Linked DNA regions of Homo sapiens: region 2 is linked to region 1. Evidence: fine-mapped expression QTL. A gene starts in region 1. The other region holds a variant in brackets. All regions are shown on one strand. Distances are from middle to middle.

Region 1 (8,580 bases):
TGCCCATCTGTGCTCACCTGTAGAAGCAGACCTCGTTGAGACACTGTTTGCAAGGCCTGTGTATGGAGTAGAGGCGGGTGCACGGGTACTGTTCCTCACGGCAGTCTGGTGACAGGTGGGGTCAGACTAGGAGCCCAGAGTGGGGGGCGGCCCCCAGCCTCACCCACCTGAGGCTGGCTCACAGGGCCTAGTCCCCCCTGTACCTTCAGGCCCCGTGCAGACACCCATACCTACACATGCCCACATAGACCCACGCAGCATTGTCAGACTTCCCAGGGCTGTAATATTCACGTATCAATTCACAACCGCACTTACTATAGAAGCCTAAGTTCAAACAGAAATTTGCACCCACCCATGCATCGCCACAAAAGCCCATACCAACTCCCGAGCAGACGTGCCCACGCTCACAGAAGCCCACATAGGAGCGCTCACACCAACCCACACGAGAGTGAGCACACGGATTCTCCTGCACACACACACCTTGTTCTTTCAAGCTCTCAGCTAGGGCAGCCGGAGGGCACCGCTCAGCCAGCCTGCACTCCCTGGCCCTTCCTCGCCTCCACATGTGCACCACTCAGTCTCTCTGGCTGGCAGGAAGCCCCCAGCACACTCCCTGCCCCTCCCAGTATCTGTGAGGTCAGGGGCCTTCCTAGGCTGCCAATTTAGCCTCCAGCCAGGCACACTGGGGACAGGTGGGACCTCCTGGAGCTGCCTGGGGGGCCTGGTGATGCCAGCCTACGGCAGTCATACTGCCCACACTGCCAAGAGCCCACATGGGCAAGGGCCAAAGACCTCCAGCCCACCAGCACCACCCCCTACTCCACCCCAACTTCAGGGCGTGCCTCCATTTTTCCAGCTGTCAAGAAAGCCCTTACCAAGAGGCCCAGGCTCTGTGGGCTCCAGCTCTGCATTTCCTGGTTCTGGTGTGGAGACAGAGGTAGGCAGACATCACTGGGAGGGGTCTCCTCAGGGCAAGGGGAGTCACCTCTCCCAGCCCTGGCAGACCCCCACTCCCAGGGTTGACAGGGTGGGGAGGGGTGAGGCAGGAGCTGAGACGGGTGGGAGCAGGGTCTGGGGCCTACCTGGGGTTGGGGCTGGGATGACTTCCTGTTGGACTTGCTGCTGGGACTGGAACTGGAACTGTTCCTCGGAGGGCCGAGGAGTCACCTCTGCAGCCAGGGGAGGATAAGGGGGTCTGCTCCCTCTACCCCTCCCAGGGGGTCTCCCCACCCCAGCTGCCGGCCCGTCCTATCCTACCCCTAGCCCGTTACCTTGATAATCATAGTAGTCTGGGTTGTCTGCAAACAAAGATGAAAGTGGAATTGGTGGGAGTAAGGCTAATCCCCCAGCCCCTGGGGCAAACAAGTTCCCTCCTGAGCCAGGGACCAACCCCCAGAGTTCCCATCAGCGTGTCCAGTGCGGTCCCTGGCTGAGCCAGGCACATCTGAGCAGCCAGGCCTCGGTGACCCGGCAAGGCCCTTACCGATCTGGTCGCTATAGTGGGTGTACTGGACGTGGTCAGGGAACGGCGGCAGCGGGTCCAGGTCATACTGGCCCTGAGCCAGCAAGCCTGCTGTGGGGAGGCAAAGCATGTAGGGTACCCCATCGGGAGGGGCAACGGGGGCCCGAGGCGCTTCTGGAGAGTGGAGGCGGGGGTCACAAGGTCAGGCCCATAAGAGCCTAGGACCCCACAAGCAGATTCCTAGAGGATCCAGACTCTTCTTCGATGGTAAAGACCCTTCCCCACCCTGGTCATGGGTCACCTCCCTGACCTTACCCTGCCCCTTCCTGTTGCTGGCCTCCTGGCTGCTCCTAGGACTCCACATGCTCCTGCCTCCCTCAGAGCCTTTGCACCTGACACTCCCTGGGCCTGTGAGGCCTGCTCAGCTCCTTCAGGTCTTCCCTGGAATTTCAGCTGTGCCAAGATGCCGCCCCACCTCCAGCCCACCAGCCCTCCTGCTGATTTCTGTCCAGCACTCAGCACATGCTGGAGTTTCTCATGTCTGCTTGTTTCCTATTTGTCTCCCTTCCCTGGACTGGCAGCATGATGAGGAGCAACGATGTGTCTGCCTGGTTCATCGCTGAATCCCCAGGGCCTAGCCCAGCACTTGGCACGTGGTAGGGACTCAACACATCGCTGCTGAATGAATGAATGTTGGCCCTGCTAGGACTTTTGTGGTCCTCATTGATTCTCTTCATTTGGCCAGTAGGGACCCCCACAAGGTCAGGACTGTATAGAGCAGAAGGGCCCTGAATGGATCTAGAACTCAAGCATCCGGACTCCCTGCCTTGGGTGCCCCTGCACCTGCACATCGGCTCCCAGAGAGGCCTTGTGCCTTGTGCCCACGGAGTCCTTGTGCCTGGGACGTGCCCTCCAGAACCCTGCCTGCCTGCTGCTGTGGAAGGCTGGGGGAAGGGCCAGGAGCTGCCTCCAGATGCTGCCAGGGTTGGCTGGTCCAGTCTGTGGTCCAAGCAGGCAGAAGGCCCTGGGAGCTGGGGAGCTGAGTTCTGGTCATAAGTCGTGACAAAGGCTCACTATGAATTCCCCCTACTAACCCTACTCCTCAGCCCCACATAAGAGGAGCTACCCCCTGCCCCAGGAGCCACTTACCAGGCAGGAATAGCAGGAAGAGGTAGGCAGCTCTCATGGCAACAAAGAGGCAGGCCGGGGTGGTGTCAGAGAGGACAGCTGGGGAAAGACCGGTGGGAGAGCTCTACCCAGGGCCACACCCAGGACAGCAGAGCTCACCTTTGATCCCCTGATTTCGCCCTGGAGAAGGTGGCACCCAGAATAGAAGCCAGGCATGGGAGGGCTGGAGTGGAGGGACATCCCAGTCCCTGCTGGCCCACCCAGGTGTTCAGGTCACAAGGGACAAGGCCTCCAACCCAGCTCCAGGGCTGATCCTGACAAGCAAACCCCGTGTAGTGGGTGTACTTGATGTGGTCAGGGAAGGGCGGACCCTGCCCTGCTCACTAAGGGGACATTCCTAATGTGCTCCCAGCCCAGGCCATTCTGTCCTCACCCACACCCGTGCTCAGCCCTCTGGCCCAGTGGCTCCCTGGGTGTCCAAGGCACTGACTGCGTGAATCACTGAACCCAGGCCCATCCTTGGGACCCCAGCCCTGGCCAGCCGGCATCACCGCCTGGACTCAGCAGCTTCTGCCAAGCCACCACCTGCTCCCAATTAGCCCCTGGGCCCTAAGCATCCTGCTCAGCAGGAAACCACATACACATGGGCCTGCCCGGCCCCCAGAGCGGCCAGGCCGGGCAGGGCTCCCAGCTCCCAGAAGACTCCTCTCCTGCCAGGCCTCCAGGCCTCGCAAGACCTGGCTGTGTGCATCACAGGCTCACGAGACCCGGGCTATTTGCAGCAGCAGGAAGCACGAGAGTGAAGCCTGAGGGGGCTCCTCTGGATCCCAGAAAGGCAGCACTGAAGGGGCCGTGACATCACCCAGGCTGGGGGTTCTGCACCCCCTGACACTGTAGGCAAGTGTGTGTGTCATTTGGAGGGAGAGGGCATGGGGTCCGTGGCTTTCATCAGGCTCCTGACATTCAAGAGCCCAGCCTCCAGTCCTGGCTACACGGTGGGACTTGGGGGAGCCTCCGGTTCCCCACATCCAGCCCCAGCTCAGTGGAGGGCCACCTCAGGTCCGTCAGCCTTCTGTAGGGAGGGCTGCGAGGGCGGGGTCCATCCAGGAGGGCCCCTCCCGGCTGCAACCCAGGAAGTCCTTTCAGAGAGCTAGCTGGAAACCCCAACTTTGGTCTATTTTCCCCACTGGGAGTCCAGGGAGAGGGGAGGGAAAGGGGAGAAAGCAGGAGGTCTTTCCCTCCTTCCTCTCAATCCTGAGGCCTCCTGACCCCCTGGCTCCTCTCATGCATTAGGCACCTCACTAAGGTGGAGTGGGAGCCGGGAGACGAAGCTCAGGACCAAGCTGCCCCAGAGGCGAGGGATAGCTGGCTCCCCACACCCCATTCTGAAAACCCTTGACCTCCTCATGGGAGGGGGATGAAAAGACCCAGAGAGCCTTCCTTGCCCTTCTCCCCATCCGTCAGGTCGGTCGGAGCCCCCGCTGCTCAGCAGAAGGCGCTGAATTGGGGCAAGAGGGGTTGCAAGGTGTTGGGGGATGCCTGTCGGTACCCTGCGGGGAGTCTTCCTCCCCTAGGACTGGCCCCCGAACCCAGGCTTATTGGGGGAAGGAGGCCCACGGGCTAGCGGGGAGGCAGGAAAGAGAGAAGTCAGTGTGGAGTTCATGAACTCCTCCCACGGGACCACATCTCCGAGCTCTTCTAGACGAAGGGGTTTTGGGGCGTGCGGGAGGCCAGGACCTGCCTGGGAGGCTGCCCCACCCCCACCTCTGGCCTCTTCCACAGCTGCGGCCTCCCCCACCCCCGACTCCCCTGCGTCCTGGGAGGTGGGGGACAGGGGGCCCCGACGCTCGCTCAGACATCAGACGGAGGGAGGGCTCTGCCGGCTCCAGAGCCGGGCTCAGGGGGAGGGGTCCCGGCGGGAGAAACCCAGATGTTGCAGCGCCGCACAGCTGGGAACAATCAGCCGCGGAAACTTGCTCCGCGCGCCCTCGCGCTCCCGTCTCTGATCTCTCTTTGTCTCTCTGCGTCTCTGTCTCGGCCATTCCCACCGGACCCCCCCCCCCCACCCCACCCGCCACATTCCAACCTCCCCGGGAGAACAAAAGATGTCCCATCCCCCGACGACCTCACCTCTGGCTCCCCCCAAACTCGGGCTCCCCGCCCTTCCCAATTCGCGTTCTCTCTGCAGAGCAACCCCAAACTTTCCAGGTGCCCCCTTGGCCTCCGCTCTGAAGGCGCGGGGTTCAGGAACCTCCGCGGCTGCCCCAGGATCGAGGACCCAGAGAGCCTGGCACCCTCGCCCCCGCGCCGGGGGACCCGCCGACGCCCCTGACCGCCCCCCGGGGCCCCCAAGCGCCAGGCCCGCGCCTACCTGTCCGGGTCACTCCGCCGCCCGCTCCGAGTCCGCCCGCCGGAGCCGCCCCTTGGCCCGCTCCGAGTCCCCCTCCGGGCCCCCGACGGGGCTGGCGCCCGCCCTCCAGCCCCGGAGCCGCTGGGTCCTAACGCGAGCTGCCCGCATGGGCCGCCACGCCGTGCCCTCGGGGTTCCATCTCCTGGGGGGGGGGGTGTCCCCGGGGTAGAGGCGCCCGGGGCCGTCCTCACGTCTGTGCAAAGCTTCCTCCTCCTCACAGCTGCTCCTCACTCGACGTCGACGGGGTGAGGGGGGTGAGGTGGGCAAGGGTAGGTGTGTTGCCCATTTCACAGAGGAGGAAATCAAGCCTCCCAAAGTGACTCACCCTAGGCCCCTCAGCCAGAAAGTAAGCCTCGATCTCCCTCTGCCTTCTCCCAGCTTCCAGGACACTCTCCTGCCTTGGTTTTCCTTCTGCCTCTCCAGCCAAGCCTGCTGCCTCTCTCAGGCCCGCACCCTCCTCTCCTACACTGCTGAGCTCTGGGCCATGGCTGGCTTCCACAACCAGCGGTTCTTTCTTTCCTTTTCTAGAGACAGGGTCTTGCTGTGTTGCCCAGGCTCGTCTGGAACTTCCGGCCTCGAAATTTTGGCCTCAAGCATTCCTCCTGTCTCATCCTCCTGGGCTGTTGGGATTACAGGCATGAGTCCCTGCCCCCGGCCATAACCAGCACCTCTTTCAGCCCTGACCCAGCCTATGTGTCCCACAAATGTCCTCAAGATGCATCAGCTTCAACAAGCATCCAAGTCCAAATTCACGACCTCCTAACTCTCCCCCAGACCTGGCCCTCCAGGATTCCCAGTCCCCCCTTGGCCCCGCAGCCTTCCATTACCCAGGCTTCCTCCCCTGCCCTTAGCCCTGCATCTAATCCAGCACCCACCCGTGAATGCTACCTGAAAAATTTCTTTTGTGACTCCGTTCACTGCTCCCACCCTGGCCTAAGCCACTGTGAGACCAAGTTGCAATCCCAAGAAACCGCATTTGCTCTTTCTGCTTGTCAGAAGCTGACAAAGCCCTGACTCAGTGACTGGGGGCAGCCCAACGGAAGGATGCCTTGAAGATGGCAGGCAGGGCAGAACACAGGCTCCCACGCCTCTTGCCTGAATCACTGCATTGTTAGAAAATATAAGTTAAATGATCCTGGCTGTGCCTTTTCCTGTACATAAGATAGCACCTGACAGGATTGACGATTATGCCTCTATAATCTATATAACTAGGTGCATCCTCGAACCCAAACCTTGGCGAGATTTGCACTAGTGTAGCTTCTGAAGACATTTGATGTAAATTTTTCTTCTTCTTTTTTTAATGAGACCGGGTCTCGCTCTGTCATCCAGGCTGGAGTGCAGTGGCACCATCACAGCTCACCTCTTGGGCTCAAGTGATCCTTCCACCTCAGCCTCCCAAGTAGCTGGGACTACAGGCAAGAGCCGCCATGCCTGGCTAATTTTTTTTTTTTTTTTTTTTTTTTGTATTTTTTGTAGAGAAGGGGTTTTGCCGTGTTTGCCCAGTCTGGTCTCAAACTCCTGAGCTCAAGCAATCCACCCGCCTCAGCCTCCAAAAGTGCTGGGATTACGGACGTGAGCCACCGTGCCTGACCATAGCTTCTGAGCACACACAGAACCGCCTGCCTCTGTATCTAAACTGTGGGCTGAAATGCTGCTTTGGCGCAGTCTAACAGAAACTCTCTGAAACCCTCTCCCAGGGTGCAGTCCTCAGTAAGACTCAATAAAACTAACTTTAATTTTTTCAATGGCTGATTTTTTTTTTTTTTTTGAAATGGAGTTTAACTCTGTTGCCCAGGCTGGAGTGCAGTGGTGTGACCTCGGCTCCCTGTAACCTCCACCTCCCGGGTTCAAGAGGTTCTCCCAACCCAGCCTCTCGGGTAGCTGGGATTACAGGCACATGCCAGCATGCCAGGCTAATTTTTGCTTTTTTTTTTTGAGTAGAGACAGGGTTTCACCATGTTGGCCAGGCTCCTGACCTTAGCTGATCCGCCTGCCTTGGGTTCCCAAAGTGCTGGGATTATAGGCATGAGCCACTGTGCCTGGCCAAAAGGTGGATTTTTTCTTTTTCTTTTTTTTTGAGACAGGGTCTTGCTATCTCCCAGGCTGGAGTGCAGTGGTGCATCCTCAACTCACTGCAACCTCTGCCTCCTGGGTTCAAGCGATTCTCATGCCTCAGCCTCCAGAGTAGTGGGGACTACAGGCACCCACCACCATGCCTGGCTATTTTTTTTTTTTTTTTTATTTCTCGTAGAGACGAGGCTTCTCCATGTTGTCCAGGCTCGTCTCGTACTCCTGACCTCAGCTGATCCACCCACCTTGGCCTCCCAAAGTGCTGGAATTACAGGCGTGAGCCACTGCACCTGGTCAAAAGGCTGATTTCTTATTTAGTTGACACCACCATCATTTGCCTGGGCTCTGCGATAGCCTCCACTCTGGGCTCTCCCACGTGGGTCCTGCCTCCCTCACCCCCGCAGATCGTGCCCCTTCTACTGATCGCCTTTCACTCAGGTTAGAGGCTCAACTTCCCTGTGGCTTCCAGGGCCCCGGCCCTTTATGGCAGCCTGGCTCTGCCTCCTCTTCCTCCTCCAGCCACTGGCCTTTGGGGGTTTTCTCCCAAACCCCTCTCCCTCCCACACTGAGGCGTTTCTTCCTCCCGAGCACTGGCTGAGGTCTCCTCCATGGGGTCACAGATCAAACCCTCCCTTCCTCAGAGGGGCCTTCCCTTTTTCCTTTTTTTGTGCTTTCTAGCTTTACTGCTTGCAGTTGTCTTGTTGGCCTATGTCTGTGACCATCTGAGCCCTGTCCCTCTTCCCGATGAGACTGTCATCTTGCCCCGTGAAGGCCAGGACCAAGGCTGTTTTTGCTCATCTTCAGTTTTGCTCATTAAGTTCAGAGCCCGGCTCAGAGCAGCAGTTCAGCAAACATTGGTGGAATGAATGAGTGAACTGTACACTAAACTCTTCCCGGAGAAGCTGGCTGGGGGTGCAGATCCTCTGCGTGAGGGGCAGCCTTCAGCCCTGCCCAGGAGCCTAGGCCTGAGGCGGGAGTGAGAGTTGTAGGGGCTGCGGGCTGGGAGGAGATGAGGATGGCCCCTGATTTAGACCCTTGCCATCTGATCTCTTCATCGCCAGTCATTCCCCCACCTCCCTTAGACTCTGAGTCTTAGGGAGGGAGTAAATATGCCCTGTGCCTCCTTCATTCCCATGCCCCGCCCCCCAGTGTCTATTGCAGGGCAGCAGAGACTTTTGTCACCTGGAGAGAGGTGGGCCCTCAGGCCAGGCCAGCCCAGCCCTCTCTGCCTGCCCTTAGACCCCACTGCTGCCAGGAGCAATCCCACTGGCAAAAGAGAGGAACTCACCCAGCAGAAATGCTGTCCCCTACCCTTGAAAAAAGGAGGGAGGTTGGGTGCAGTGGCTCACACCTGTAATCTCAGCAGTTTAGGAGACCAAGGCGGGTGGACCGCTTGAGCCCAGGGGTTTGAGACCAGCCTGGACAGCATGGCAAAACCCCATCTCTACAAAAAATACAAAAATTAGCTGGGTGTGGTGGTGCTGGCCTATAGTCCCAGCTACTCAGGAGG
Region 2 (8,580 bases), 25 kb after region 1:
ACAAATAAATAAATAGGATAAGGGTATTTACTGAACCCCCACTACACGCCAAGTGCTTTATCTAAGTGTCATACAATGGCAATGACAATTCTACAAGGCCGGTACCACCATTAGCTCCATTCTACAGATGAGGAAACCAAGGCATGGACAGGTGAAGCCACTGGCCTAAAACCACATAGTTCCAGCCAGGTGCGGTGGCTCATGCCTATAATCCCAGCACTTTGCAAGGCCGAGGCAGGTGGGTCATCTGAGGTCAGGAGTTTGAGACCAGCCTAGCCAACATAGTGAATCCCCGTATCTACTAAAAATACAAAAAAAAAAAAAAATTAGCTGGGCGTGGTGGCAGGCGCCTGTAGTCCCAGCTATGTAGGAGGCTCAGGCAGGAGAATCACTTGAACCCAGGAGGTGGACATCGCAGTGAGCCGAGATCACGCCATTGCACTCCAGCCTGGGCAACAAGAGCAAAACTCTGTCTCAAAAAAAAAAACAACAAACAAAAAACAAAAAACCACATAGCTTCTAAGTGACAGACTGATTTCTATGGGGCCAGACTCAAAGATCTCTTTCATGGTGCCTGCCCCCGATCAGAGGGCTGGGATGTTCACACTTTATTCTAGTTGTGTCCAGGTCACTGGCTTCTCTTTGTCCCTGTGTGACCTTGGCCATGTCACAGCCTCCAACTGAAGCTTGGATTTCTCAGGTGTGAACAGTGCAGTCCCAGGCCCAACCCACGGGACTGTTGGGAGCATGAAAGTGGAGGACGCACAGAGAGGACCCAGGCTCTAGGGCGTGTCTCTGGGGACCCCATAGATGCTCAGGCTGCGTGGATTTGCCTCTTGGCCTCCAATCCCTATGAGTGGGGCCCCAATCTGTGACCCAAGCCTTGGGCAGAACCTCCAATTCCTGGACCTGGTCTCTCTGGCTAGGCTGACTGCGGCAGGTTCTGAGATGACGATCCACTATGGAGAAGGGGACAGCTGGTCTGGTTGCCACCGTAAAGTGGCCCAGAGGAGGCAAGCCCTGGGCCAAGGTCACACAGCACGCCAGGCAGGGCTGGGGCAAGACCCAGGGACAGCCCTACCTCGTCCACCAGCAGCTGGGGGTAGGACTTGACCGGTATGCTGATCACGTTGGGGCCGTAAATGGCCTTCCTGGAAGAGGGGATGAGGCCAAGCCATCAGAAGGAGGAGCTGTGGCTGGACCCTCCCGGGGTGAAGGAGCTCCCCACTTTCAGCTGGGGGAACTGAGGCCCAGAGAAGGCAGGTGACTGGAAGGCAACCACATTGGGGGGCAACACAAGGAGCCCCAGTTCTCAGGGCACCCCGGTCCAGGGCAGCACTGACCTCACCATTTGGTCCTGGAGGCTGAGGCCATGGCGGGAGCGGTGGACGTCGTCACAAGAGCGGCCATGGTCCAGGAGGCTGGGGGTGGGTGCGAGGGGACACGCATGGGCCATGGGGCCTGAGGTCTGCATCCCCCACCCTGTGCAGGCTGGAGACTATGGGCTCTAGGCCCCCCATCCCCGTTCTGCCACACTGAGCTCCTGGGAGCAAGTAAGCCCCCTTGAACCCAAGGCTTGGCTTTGCCCTTTTGTTCCTCTCACTGGGTTCCAAACCAAGTCACTGAAGAAGGAGAACAGCGAGAGATGATGCTAATAATATGAACAGTGAAAAGAGTAGCTGTTATTTAGTGATAAGGGCACTATTTACACTGATGATACCCTGGGCAAGTCACTTAACCTCTCTGTGCCTCAGTTTTCTCATCTGCAAAATGGGGGCAGTGACAGCACCTACCACATAGGGCCATGGGTAGATTAAGTGGGGCAAGCCTCGGGGACTGCTTTGGACGTGCCTGCCACTTGCTAAGTGATGAATGCACGGGTGATTTTTGCTATTATCCCCATCATGCAGCAGAGGCTGTTGCTGCCATCCCCATCTCCCCTCTGCCTCACCTCCACATGACAGCTGGACCCTGAAAACACCTGTCTTTACCTGAGGCCTTCTGGCTGCATGTGAATCCCCTGCCTGTGAGCCCGGAAAGCGTGGAAGACTTTGTGTCCCGTGACTGATAATGGCAGGGAATTTGATGGTAACTGTCCTCACTCCCTGTGTGAGGTCGCCCAGAGGTGTGTGGTCTACGCTGGCCCAAGGAGATCCCCAGGCGACTGAAGTCCGGGTGTCCACAGCTGTGGCAGCCAGCATAACCTCCCTCCGTGCTTCCATCCCTTCCCCAGCACTGCCTGGGATCAGCTTCAAAACAAACTCCCTGCCCTTGAGCCCTTGTCTGGGGGTCTGCTTCTGCGGCATTCAAACTAAAGTGTGTGAGCAGGGCCCGGTGGCTCATGCCTGTAATTCTAGCACTTTGGGAGGCTGAGGCGGGTGGATCACCTGAGGTCAGGTATTTGAGAACAGCCTGGCCAACATGGTGAAACCCCGTCCCTACAAAACATGCAAAAATTAGCTGGGTGTGGTGGCATGCACCTGTAATCCCAACTACTCGGGAGGCTGAGGCAGGAGAATCGCTTGAACCCAGGAGGCGGAGGTGCAGTGAGCCGAGAATGCGGCATTGCACTCCAGCCCGGGCAACAAGAGTGAAACTCCATCTTAAAAAACAAACAAACAAACCAAAAAAACCACACACACACACACACACACACACACACACACACACATACACACAAACTAAGGTGTGTGGTGAGCTTGTGTTTCTTTTTCTTTTTTTTTTTTTTTGAGATGGAGTCATGCTCTGTCATCCAGGCTAGAGTGCAGTGGCGCGATGTTGGCTCACTGCAACCTCTGCCGCCCAGGTTCAAGCGATTTTCCTGCCTCAGCCTCCCAAGTAGCTGGGATTACAGGCACATGCCATCACGCCCAGCTAATTTTTGTGTTTTTAGTAGAGATGGGGTTTCAGCATCTTGGCCAGGCTGATCTTGAACTCCTGACCTCGTGATCCACCTGTCTTGGCTTCCCAAAGTGCTGGGATTACAGGGGTGAGCCACCGCACCCAGCCTGAGCTCATGTTTCTTAAGCCTTTTGTAGGTGGCAGAGCAGTGACTAAACCCCAAGCAGACAGTCTGAGTACAGAGCTGATAGTCTGATTCACAGTGGTGTCACAACCTCAGATCACATTCGGTGCCAAGCTCTACATAAATTATTATCTATTTCACCATCAAAACAATCCTAGGAGGCAGAAGTTATCTTCATGCCCTATTTATAGACAGAGATCCCAGGCCTGGAGGGGCTCAGTAACCTGCCCAAGGTTTCAGACAGCAAAAGCATCAGAGCTGAGAGGGGAGCCCAGGCCATGCCATGCCACCGTCTGTGCCCAAACCAGTGCCACTCTGGGAGGTGACATGAGCCACACAGGCCCTGACTCCTACCTGACCTGGTAGAAGGCTTGCTGGGTCTCGATCCAGATATAGCGCTGGCCCTGGAAGAGGTAATACCGCAGCACCCGCTTCTGGGTGGGAGAGAGGAGAGGATGGGTTGGAAGCTGGCCCCGGCCCCAGAAGCAGTGTGCTTATGCTGGGAGCCGAGGGATGGGGGTAGGGGGCAGGGACTGGTGTCACCAGACAGAGAGGTGGGGAGAGGCCTGAAAGTGTAAACGTGCTCAGACAGCATCCTGGATGTTTGGGACAACAGAACTAAAAGGTGGTGGGAGAACATGAAGTCTGACTCTCCCATTGCACAGATCATGAAACCGAGGCCGAGAGAGGGGCAAGGACTTTTTCAGAACCCACCTGTCCGACACTCACCGCCTCCTCGCTCTTGTGGAGCTGGGCCGTATCCTTCCAGGCACCCTCTGGTACCGCCCCAACTGCCGCCTGGCTCCGGCCATCCTCTGCCTGGGACTGTGGGGACGGCTCCAGGCTGGGGAAGCAGGTGAGGGTTACTCTCGAGCTCTGGGAGCTGCCCTGGCACCTCCCTGTGCTCACAGAGCCATCTTCCCTCCCTAGGATGGGAGGCGCCAGAGTCAGCCTTTATGGGGGGGCCGAGGGTTGGGGAAGTTGGGGAGGCCAGGGTAGCAGGGGCTTCTGGGAAGGGGCAATGGGGCTGCCTCACCTGCCCTCGCCGATGGCCTCAGTCTGCACCTGGACAGTGAAGAGCTGCCAGGAACTATCCTGGAACACAGAGGTATGGACTCAGTCTCAGAAGAGTCCCCTCCCCTCCCAGGCCCTGTCCTACAGCCAGGCGGCCCCTGCTGGAGAAGGCAGAAATCAAGGCTATGG[A/G]GAGCCCTCCAGAAACCACCCGACCCGTCCCTTCTGCCCAATGCTCAGATGGGAAAGCTGAGGTCCAGAGAAGAGCGGGACCTGCCTAATGTCCCATGGAAAGTCAGTGGCCGGGTTGGCACCCAAGCATCCTCCACCCCCGACCCTGACCCTCACTGCGCTTCTCTAGCCCCAGGCTCAGCCTGACTCTCACCTCTTTGTCTCTTATTTCGATAACGAGTGTTTCGGCGTGGGCCAGGTTGCAGGGCCGGAGCCGCAGCCGCACCCCCCACAGGGGCTTCCAACGGAAGAGCAGCAAAGGGATCCCAGCCATCATCCAGACCACGACGTGATAGCCGATGACCCTCCATGGACTGCCACAGTAGCCGCTGAGCCTCTGCGAACGCAGCGAGAGAGGGCCCAGGTCGGGGTGGGAACGGGGCTGGAGTAGGAAGTTGGGGTGTCTGGGTGGGCCTGGGCATTCACCCCCTGCAGCTTTTCCCCACCCCACTCTGCCCACTTACCACGGATGAAACTGAGGAGCTGAGGGGATCTATTGATGTCCCTATCGTCAGGGTCCCATAACCGGTGGGCGTGCTGCCCACGAGAGGGCTGCTGTCTGTGGACAGAAAAGAGAAAGGTCATTTGGGGAGGCACCTTCTCCTCTTGCTTCCTTAAAAACAATAAACATCAGCCTGGGCGCGGTGGCTCACGCCTGTAATCCCAGCACTTTGGGAGGCCGAGGCGGGTGGATCACCTGAGGTTAGAAGTTCGAGATCAACCTGGCTAACATGGTGAAACCCATCTCTACTAAAAATAAAAAAAATTAGCCGGGCGTGGCAGCGCGTGCCTGTAATCTCAGCTACTCAGGAGGCTGAGGCAGGGGAATCACTTGAACCTGGGAGGTAGAGGTTGCAGTGAGGCAAGATCACACCACTGCACCCCTGCCTGAGCAACAGAGTGAGACTCCATCTCAAAAAACTAAACAAAACAAAACACAAAACAGTAAGCACCTGGTCTGACAGAGCCCAAAGCTCATGTCTTCCTGTGTCCTTTATCTGGCTCTTCTTTCCGTCGGTTCTTACTTACCGTATCTTTTTTTTTTTTTTGAGACGGAGTGTCACTCTGTCACCCAGGCTGGAGTGCAGTCACTTGATCTCAGCTCACTGCAACCTTTGCCTCCCAGGTTCAAGCGATTCTCCTGCCTCAGCCTCCCGAGTAGCTGGGATTATAGGCATGCACCACCATGCCCAGCTAATTTTTGTATTTTTAGTAGAGATGGGGTTTCACCATGTTGGCCAGGCTGGTCTCGAACTCCTGACCTCAAGTGATCTGCCCACTTTGGCCTCCCAAAGTGCTGGGATTACAGGCATGAGCCACCGTGCTTGGCCAGTAGTGTCTTGTTTCCTTGCGTGTGTCGGTCTTTCTGCTGGGTATGGCCCAGAATTGGAGAATGGGGCCTGGACAGTGCCCCAAGCCCCCATGGTGCTCGTGCATCCAGCCATTAGCTTCCTTGGAGCTCTGGGTCTCACTTTTCTATCCTCATCCAGTCCCCACCCTGAGGGCAGGGGTCAGGGATGCTTATCTTCATTCCATGCCCGTGCCCAGCCCAGGTCTGGCAGTGAGGAGATGCAAAGTCAAGTCTGGACTAATAAACGGTCAGCCCTGCAGGCCTATCTTTACAGATGGGTAAACTGAGACTTGGGGAATGGTATCAGGTGGTTCTATTGCAGATATTCTTTTTTTTTTGAGATGAAGTCTTGCTCTGTCGCCCAGTCTGGAATACAATGGCATGATCTCGGCTCACTACAACCTCTGCCTCCCAGGTTCAAGCGATTATCCTGCCTCAGCCTCCCGAGTAGCTGGGATTACAGGCGCCCAGCTAAGTTTTGTATTTTCAGTAGAGACGGGGTTTCACCATGCTGGTCAGGGTGGTCTCAAACTGCCGACCTCAGGTGATCCACCCGCCTTGCCTCCCTGAGTGCTGGGCTGACAGGCTGAGCCACTGCGCCCGGCCACAGACATTCTTTTCACTCCTTCCTCCTGTGCTGTAGAGCTGTGGCCTTAGCAGGGCAGGCAGCCAGTGGATGTTCTGGGGCTCCAGAGCGGGTAGAGCTCACCAGCCCCACCCTTGGACAGCCTCTGTCAGGGTTCATCTACGGTCCCAGACCACCTGGAGCACCTTTTACATATGCAGATGCCAGGGCCCTCCCCAGACTGGCTGGATCAACTCCTCAGGCCGGGGTAGGGATGGTGCTAGGCATCTGTGGTTTCACAAGAGCCTCTGAAAAAGCTCACTAAGCTGGAAAAGCTGGGCGGGTGCGGGGTAGGCTGCTGATTTTCTGGGCTCCCTCCTTCATCCCCCAATCTGAGCCCTTCTAAAATTTTTCCTTTTTTTTTTTTTTTTTTTGAGAGCGAGTCTCGCTCTGTCACCCAGGCTGGAGTGCAGTGGCGCGATCTCGGCTCACTGCAAGCTCTGCCTTCCGGGTTCACACCATTCTCCTGCCTCAGCCTCCCAAGTAGCTGGGACTACAGGCGCCCGCCACCACGCCCGGCTAATTTTTTGTATTTTTAGTAGAGATGGGGTTTCACCGTGTTAGCCAGGATGGTCTCGATCTCCCGACCTCGTGATCCGCCCGCCTCGGCCTCCCAAAGTGCTGGGATTACAGGCGTGAGCCACAGCGCCCGGCGAGCCCTTCTAAAATTTCTACCCAAAGAGTCCAGAGTGCCCCAGGCAGCTGCTGTGGGCACAGCACCCCCAGCCTCTGAGCAGCCCCATCCCCAAGCACTCTGGCTTCAACACTCCTAGAGGGCTCACTGTGCACAGGGTACATGGCTAACGTATCAACCCTGCCAGGTAACCTCGGTTGTGATGTCCTTTCATTCATTCATTCATTCATTTATTTACTTATCACTCTTGTAGCCTCGGCTTCCCAAAGTGCTGGGATTACAGGCGTGAGCCACCATGCCCAGCTTACAGTTTTCGTGTATAAGTCTTTTTTTGAGACAGTCTCTCTCTGTCACCCAGGCTGGAGTGCAGTGTTGCGATCATAGCTCACTGCAGCCTTGACCTCCCAGGCTCAAGCAATTCTCCCACCTCAGCCTCCAAATAGCTGGGACTACAGGCACAGGCCACCATGCCCAGCTAATTTTTTTTGTAGAGACAGGGTTTTGTCTTTTTGCCCATCATTTGTTCCTAAGAATTTCTTTTTTGATGCTGTGTTTCATACAGCAAGTGCCTTTGCCTCTCTGGGCTTCCATTTCTCATCTCTAGGATGATAGTCCCGAAGCATCCAGCACACAGGGAGGTAGAAGCATTTGAAGTTCCTGGGGGGGTTGCGTGGACAGGTGGGCAGGACCCGGCTCCCAGGTCAGGGGGGCGTGGCTTCTGCTTATCCATTTCCCAGGCTCTCTTCTCCTTTCACATCACCCTGTCTGAAGCCCTGGCTGTCCCACGGCTCCCTAGGCCCATTCAACAGTTGCTCCTTGTACCTTAAAACCCTCAGGCCGGCCGTGCGCAGTGGCTCACGCCTGTAATCCCAGCCCTTTGGGAGCCCAAGGGGGGCGGATCACGAGGTCAGGAGGTGGAGACTAGCTGAGACCATCCTGGCTAACACGGTGAAACCCTGTCTCTACTAAAAATATAAAAACCAAATTAGCCGGGCGTGGTGGCAGGCGCCTGTAGTCCCAGCTACTTGGGAGGCTGAGGCGGGAGAATGGTGTGAACCCAGAAGGTGGAGCTTGCAGTGAGCTGAGATCACGCCACTGCACTCCAGCCAGGGTGACAGAGCAAGACTCAAAAAAAAAAAAAAAAACCCTCAGGCCAACAGCCCAGCGGGCTCAGGGATGATGGGAAAGGAGCCATCCCTGCGGTGCTGATTTGATTTCCTCCCGCACCAACCCACAAGGTGGGCTCTCTTACCCAGTTTGACAAACGAGAGCACTGAGCCTCTGGGGCAGTTGCCCTCAGACTTGTCTCAAAGCTGGAACAGGGCTGGCCTTACTCCCAGGTCCTCTCTGCCCAGCACATCTACTCCTGACATTCCCCTCAGCATCAGGCTCAGATGGGTGTCACTGCCCTTACTGCTCACAGTACCTGCCATGTGCTCAGGGGTCAGGAAACACTGATTGACCGACTGACTGAATGAATGAATGTCTGTCTCTTGGACACAACAGAGCTTGAAGGCAAAGGTGCTGGGAGTTGGGGGGAGGGGCTTGAGCCTCTTCCTTTTTTTTTTTTTTTTTTTTTTTAAAAGAGACAGGGTCTCACTCTGTCACCCAGGCTGGAGCACAGTGGCATGATCCTAGCTCACTGGAGCCTTGACCTCCTAGGCTAAAGGAGGTACTCTTGCCTCTGCCTCCCAAGTAGCTGG

Direction of the effects. Positions count from the first base shown, and alleles are read on the strand shown. Sizes are in standard deviations (SD) of each study's normalised expression.
In carriers of allele A in region 2, the expression in hippocampus of the gene that starts at base 4,995 in region 1 tends to be higher than with G alone (moderate effect, 0.46 SD a copy in GTEx).

What was found. PIP is the estimated chance that this variant, and not a neighbour inherited with it, causes the effect.
Region 2: its variant is the best candidate, but not a certain one, in a credible set for the expression of MFAP2 in hippocampus (GTEx, PIP 0.77).

The regions. Positions count from the first base shown.
Region 1 is chr1:16,975,626-16,984,205 of GRCh38, forward strand. MFAP2 (microfibril associated protein 2) reads right to left here and starts at 4,995. Exons shown (of 9, transcript NM_002403.4): 1 at 4,962-4,995; 2 at 2,612-2,689; 3 at 1,484-1,573; 4 at 1,272-1,298; 5 at 1,083-1,169; 6 at 876-920; 7 at 18-105. The coding sequence starts at 2,648. It overlaps LOC105376806 (a long non-coding RNA gene), which reads left to right and starts at 236. Exons shown (of 2, transcript XR_947003.3): 1 at 236-937; 2 at 2,044-2,170. RefSeq lists enhancers at 2,757-3,262, 3,263-3,770, 3,771-4,276.
Region 2 is chr1:17,000,953-17,009,532 of GRCh38, forward strand. ATP13A2 (ATPase cation transporting 13A2) reads right to left here. Exons shown (of 29, transcript NM_022089.4): 2 at 4,732-4,826; 3 at 4,422-4,604; 4 at 4,062-4,120; 5 at 3,740-3,869; 6 at 3,380-3,459; 7 at 1,344-1,421; 8 at 1,082-1,151. Among named protein-coding and RNA genes, the nearest start is that of ATP13A2, 6.7 kb to the right of the region's middle. The variant A/G (reference allele first, on the strand shown) is at 4,229.